2 separate regions of the Homo sapiens genome follow, and region 1 is linked to region 2. Evidence: fine-mapped expression QTL. A gene starts in region 2. The other region holds a variant in brackets. All regions are shown on one strand. Distances are between the middles of the regions.

Region 1 (2,897 bases), 35 kb after region 2:
TCGGGGGACGCCCCGAGTGTGCAGAAGGCGGAGCTGGCTGCAGCCCAGGCTCCTGAGTGTGGAGAAGCGGAGGAGGCTGTGGCCCTGACTCAGGGGCCAGGACCCTCCTGCCTCCCCAGCAGCTTCCCAAACCCCGAAGTGGTTAGAGCGGGGCCTGGCCACCGGCTGCCGGGCCGCACGGGCAGGAGGGGCCGGGAAGGTCTTCCCCTTTGACCCTCACTGCTTTTCTCCCCAGGAAACCTGTGGTATCGCCAAGGGATCACGCCCAGCTACCCGCAGGGCTCCAGCTGGGAGCACGTGTCCAACAACGTGTGCCGAGTGTCCGTGGGGCCCCTGGACCAGGTGGGGGTGCTCAGGGGGTATCGGGCACTTGGGGTGCTCTGGTTCCCTCTCTGGTCTCCCCCATCCCATGCCCAGCCGTCCCACTGCAGGTAGGGCTGAGGGCTTCATGGGGTCTGTGCTCCAGGTCTGGGTGATCGCCAACAAAGTGCAGGGCAGCCACAGCCTGAGCCGGGGGACAGTGTGTCATCGCACCGGCGTGCAGCCTCACGAGCCCAAGGGCCACGGCTGGGACTACGGCATCGGGGTGAGCGGGGCCCGCGGCCTTGGGCTGTGTTATCACCTTGTGCCTGCACTGGGTGCTGAAGACGGGACGACCACTGTGGGACTGTCCCCTGGGACCCGGTGTCTGGGTTGCAGGGAGGCCCCCAGGCAGATCCCCTCCAGGATCCTCGAGTCCCCGAGTCCCCTGGTGACACAGCTCTCTCCTTCCAGGGAGGCTGGGACCATATCTCTGTCCGGGCCAATGCCACCAGGGCCCCCCGGAGCTCGTCCCAGGAGCAGGAGCCGAGTGCCCCACCAGAGGCCCATGGCCCCGTCTGCTGCTGAGGCCCCCCCACACACCTACATGCAGGGACGGTGCCCAGTTTGGGGGATCAAGGCTGAGCCATTCTTGTGCTGGAGTGTGCACCGTGGGAGCAATGTGGCCCAGGTGGACTCAGGAGGGAACCTGGCCCCAAGGCTGCGGCCACTTCAGAGGCACTGGCTGAGACGGCCCTGAAATGTGAAGCTCCGCGGACACTCCCACACGTGTCCCCGTCTGCGAGGAGTCCCGGGGTGTGGGGCATGGGGTGGGGCTGCACCTCCCAGAGGCCCCTCCCACCCTTCCCTTCCCCTCTCCCTTCTGCCTTTCCAGGACTAGAACCGGGAACCTGGAGCCCTCCGGGAACGCCGGCCCTGGGGCAGCAGAGCCAGGATGGAGCCCTCCTGAGCTGGCATCTCAGACAGCACCCGGGCCCGCCACCCCTCACCAAGAGAGATGGCCATGGGGCTCAGGGCCTCTTTACCATGTGCAGTGACCATTTCTCAGAGCAGGACTTGCAAAGAGGCTTTAATTTCAAAAGTGAAGGAAGGAGGCCAGGCGCCGTGGCTCACGCCTGTAATCCCAGCACTTTGGGAGGCTGAGGTGGGCAGATCACCTAGGTCAAGAGTTTCAAACCAGACGGGCCAACATGGTGAAACCCCATCTCTGCTAAAAATACAAAAAAAAAAAAATTAGCTGGGCATGGTGGTGGGTGCCTGTAATCCCAGCTACTCGGGAGGCTGAGGCAGGAGAATCGTTTGAACCCGGGAGGCGGAGGCTGCAGTGAGCCGAGATCATGCCACTGCACTCCAGCCTGGGCGACA[G/C]AGACTCCATCTCAAAAAAAAAAAAAAAAAAAAGTGAAGGAAGGAGACAGCAGATTGGAAATAACACTGGAGTGGATGGGATGTCCTCTTCCCTGAGGGGGCCGGGGTACCAGACGGGAGGCTGGGAGAGGATGAGAGGCTGCCCCATGGCTGGAGGCAGTGTCCGTGTGTGCAGTCACCATCATCAACCCCCATTCGGCCCCTTCCCCAGATGCGCTGGTGACAGGGGCTTCTTGGATGTCAAATCATGTTGTAGGAGGGTGCAGACTGCGGGCTTCTGTGGGGAGCAGTACTACTGTGTCTGTCGGCAGTGGCCATGGGACCCTCAGCCCGTCCTGTACATGGAGCAGGGTGCACAGTCACCCTCCATCCTGTGGCGAGAGGCTGGCCCGGCCCGGCCAGGCGAGGCAGAAGGTGTCGGCCAAGTGGCCCCGACCCCATCCCGCAGTCTCTCAGCTGCTTTTTATTACCTCTGTGCCCCATTTGGGAGTTTGCTTCCTCCACCTGGACACTTTGCCCGGGAGGTCATCAGAGCCCAACCCCAGGCTCTGCTCGGTTGGAGAGGGGATGACTTCACCACCACCTGACCTTCCTAGGGTCCTGGTCTCACTGTCAGCTGGGGGTCCGTTGTGTGTATTTGTACAGTTTTGCTGTATGGGGTTTGTCACCCAAAAGCTGATGCTGAGAAAGGCCTCCCTGGGGCCCCTCCCGCGGGCATCTGAGAGACCTGGTGTTCCAGTGTTTCTGGAAATGGGTCCCAGTGCCGCCGGCTGTGAAGCTCTCAGATCAATCACGGGAAGGGCCTGGCGGTGGTGGCCACCTGGAACCACCCTGTCCTGTCTGTTTACATTTCACTATCAGGTTTTCTCTGGGCATTACGATTTGTTCCCCTACAACAGTGACCTGTGCATTCTGCTGTGGCCTGCTGTGTCTGCAGGTGGCTCTCAGCGAGGTACGGGGAGGGCGTCACCCTGCAGAACGGCAGAGTGACGCGTCCTCTCGCTGCTGAGCACCAGCTGTTTACCTGCCCTGCATCACTTCCTCGGATACTTTACTCAATAAGCATTTCCCCTGGAGTGTCCGTGCCCTGGTGTTTTTTATCGATACGTTGATTAAAACGCGTGGTTCCCCGTGTGCCTGAAGCAGACATTGCTGTGAAATCTTTTATTTTTGTTTTATGACACAGCATCAATTTCATGAATACTTTGAAA
Region 2 (2,900 bases):
GAGACAGAACTAGAGGGGGAGCAGGAATAGGTCCCTAGGTCCAACCAGGTGACATTGGTTTAGCTCAATGTCGGGTAGTATCTAGCCTTCCATCAGATGCCCTTTTTTTTCTTTTTTGAGAAGGAGTTTTGCTCTTGTCGCCCAGGCTGTAGTGCGGTGGCACAGTGGCACGATCTCAGCTCACTGCAACCTCCACCTCCCCAGTTCAAGCGATTTTCCTGCCTCAGTCTCCCGAGTAGCTGAGATTACAGGCATGCGCCACCACCCCTGGCTAATTTTGCATTTTTACTAGAGACGGGGTTTCACCATCTTGGCCAGGCTGGTCTCAAACCCCTGACCTCAAGTGATCCGCCCGCCTTGGCCTCCCAAAGTGCTGGGATTACAGGTATGAACCGCCGCACCTGGCCGACATCTTTCTTTTTTCTCCTTTCTCCATCCTAACCTTGCCAGTTTTCTGCCAGGCGGGATACAGTGTTTTCAAATCCCAGTTCCATCGCTTACAACGTGAGTCGCTCCATCTCTGAGCCCGTGTTCGCATTTGTAAAATGGGAATGACGCCGCCAGCTCTTTGGGTTGCTGGGAGGATGAAATGAGAAGACCCAAGTAAAGCACTTACGTCAGTGCCCGCCACCCCGGGAGGACTCGCATATTACTATTAATATATTAGGCCAGCTTACACTGGGTTTTGTCACTGACAATAGAGTTTGAGCAATCCAGGGCCTGTTACTGACACCACACCATGCTATAGTCACAAAATCACATATGCTTCCAGGACTCCTCCTCGAAAGAGTAAAGCTTTAAGTGTAGTGTGTGCTCAAGGGCTACGTTTCAGTTCGATGGATACCAGGAAGACACCTGTTCCCTGCGTCCTCTCCACGCCCCAGGCCGGGCGCCCACACCCTGCTCCTCCTGACGCCGCACAGCCACGCACCCAGGTACCCTCTCCGCCACCCCTTCTCCTCGCCTGCAGGCGGTGTCCACACCGCCCTCTCCGCTCCTGCAGACCGGGTCCTGGAGGGCGGCCGGGCGGTCCACGGGCCGGTGTCGCGCCGCCAGAGAGAACGCGGCAACTCGCTTCAGCCGACTCTGGACTCCTGACCTGGCGCGACCCCGGAAGTGGGCGGGCGCGCGACCTCGAAGCCAGCACCGACGCGGCGCACCGCAGCCAATCGCACGTCCCAGGTCGCAGCGTCCTGGCGAGGCTGGCCAATGGGCACGGGGCCTGATGCCGCTTCCGGCCCACCCTCTTGCCCGGTCCCCGGGAGGGCCGGTCCGCTCCTCCCGGACGCCGAGGACCTACCACCGCGACTTCGCCCCGCCCGGCGCGGGCCCAGGTGAGTGCAGAGTGGCGCCCCAGCTGCAGCGGCGGCCAGGGCCGTGGGAAAGAATGGGGCGATGAAGGGCTGGGCACGCCGCCTTCCCCACCACCCCCAGGCTGTTTGCTCGCGGGGAGGGAGGAAGGAGGGACCGCACTTGTCATCTCGCCTGCACACCTGGAAGGTGCCGCCCCCGTCCCCTGCCCTGGAACGCCCACAGGCTAGCGAAGTTGCCTGGTGCAGGTGACGCCCCCATTCCAGCCTTTGGACTGGAGCCATAGGAGAAGCGGATCGCGGGATCCTGGTTGTTTTCGAGAATCACGCAGCAAGGGGCCTGCCTATCCCTCTCCCTGGGTATTGATGGGAGCAAATCTGCTTGTCGTAAGATTAGCTTTGGCAGATGGTCAGGGCCCAGAGCTCCGACATATGCTACTGGTGGCAGTGCAGGGGCCCCACCTGTCACCCAAGTGCACAGCACTGGGCTGAACGCCAGGCTGACTCAGGACACCTCCTGCCCGGTGGGGCTGGGCGGACCCTATTCTTCAGGAAAGAATCAACTACCATGCAAGTTCTGCTGCTTTTTCCCACCTTTTAGGACCCTGATGTCGCTTTTGAACAGCCCCTGCACCTGGCAGCCAGCGAGCTACTGTAGTAGGCATTGCCGACTGTTTGCATACCGGATGGGAGTGACAGTGTAATAGAAAAACAAGCAAGAAACCTTTTAGGTAGGACTCCTAAGGCTCAGAGGAAGTAAGTGCTTGCGGAGCGTTCTTTGTACTGTGTCTTTTCCTCTACCACATCTCTGTCCCCGCCTCTCTTGGGTGCTTTTTTTGGTCTCTGAAAGGATCTGTGAATAAACTGAGACAGAAAGGCAGATGGCTTTGAGGGTGGCGAGCAGACCTTCTTCGTGGAAAGACTGAAGGTTCAACTCAAATTCATCTTGTAGAAATTCTTGGTGAATTCGAGGCTGCTGATTTGGAAGATTTTCCTCCATCCCTCTAACCCTACAAAACAAACAAGTCCCAGGATCCCTGAATCATGGGGCTTCATGTTCCAACCCCCCTTTCAAGAGTCCTCTGACCCAGTGACCCTGTGTAAGTTGCCTGATCAGCTCACAGCCAGAAAGTGGCCCATGAGGAGCTAGGGGGAGCCTCTTGGCAGAGGCAGAAAGAAAGTGTGGCTGACCAAGGATGGTTACCGGATGTCAACTGTAGCTAGGAAGTGACGACAGGTGCCTGGGTCTCTACTCTGAAGGGAGTTTGTAAATACAGCAACCCCCCACCCCTCCCTTTCACTGTAGCAGAGTCTTCTCCCATTAACTGCCCAGAAGATTCAATGATGTCTATGAGGAAATTAGTGCTTAGTCATTTATTTGAAGGAAAGTCAAAATCTCCTTTCATTGAGCTCAACCTGCAGACTGAGTCTAGCTAAACTGCTTGCTTATCCAGTGAATTCTGAGCTATCTTTGTTTTGTTGTTGTTGTTGTTGTTGTTTGTTTTCCTTTTTGAGACAGGGTCTCGCTCTGCTGCCCAGGCTGGAGTGCAGTGGCACAATCATAGCTCACTGTAGCCTCAAACTCCTGGG

What was found. PIP is the estimated chance that this variant, and not a neighbour inherited with it, causes the effect.
Region 1: its variant is fine-mapped to the expression of TECPR1 in esophagus muscle (GTEx, PIP 0.99).

Annotation. Positions count from the first base shown.
Region 1 is chr7:98,215,381-98,218,277 of GRCh38, reverse strand. BHLHA15 (basic helix-loop-helix family member a15) reads right to left here. Exons shown (of 2, transcript NM_177455.4): 2 at 2,821-2,897. TECPR1 (tectonin beta-propeller repeat containing 1) reads left to right here. Exons shown (of 26, transcript NM_015395.3): 24 at 236-342; 25 at 467-586; 26 at 775-2,897. The coding sequence ends at 888. Among named protein-coding and RNA genes, the nearest start is that of BHLHA15, 5.4 kb to the right of the region's middle. The variant G/C (reference allele first, on the strand shown) is at 1,687.
Region 2 is chr7:98,250,560-98,253,459 of GRCh38, reverse strand. TECPR1 (tectonin beta-propeller repeat containing 1) reads left to right here and starts at 1,228. Exons shown (of 26, transcript NM_015395.3): 1 at 1,228-1,334; 2 at 1,912-2,066. It overlaps LOC124901706 (a long non-coding RNA gene), which reads right to left and starts at 1,101. Exons shown (of 2, transcript XR_007060448.1): 1 at 932-1,101; 2 at 1-576. RefSeq lists silencers at 942-1,041, 1,132-1,521 and an enhancer at 838-1,581.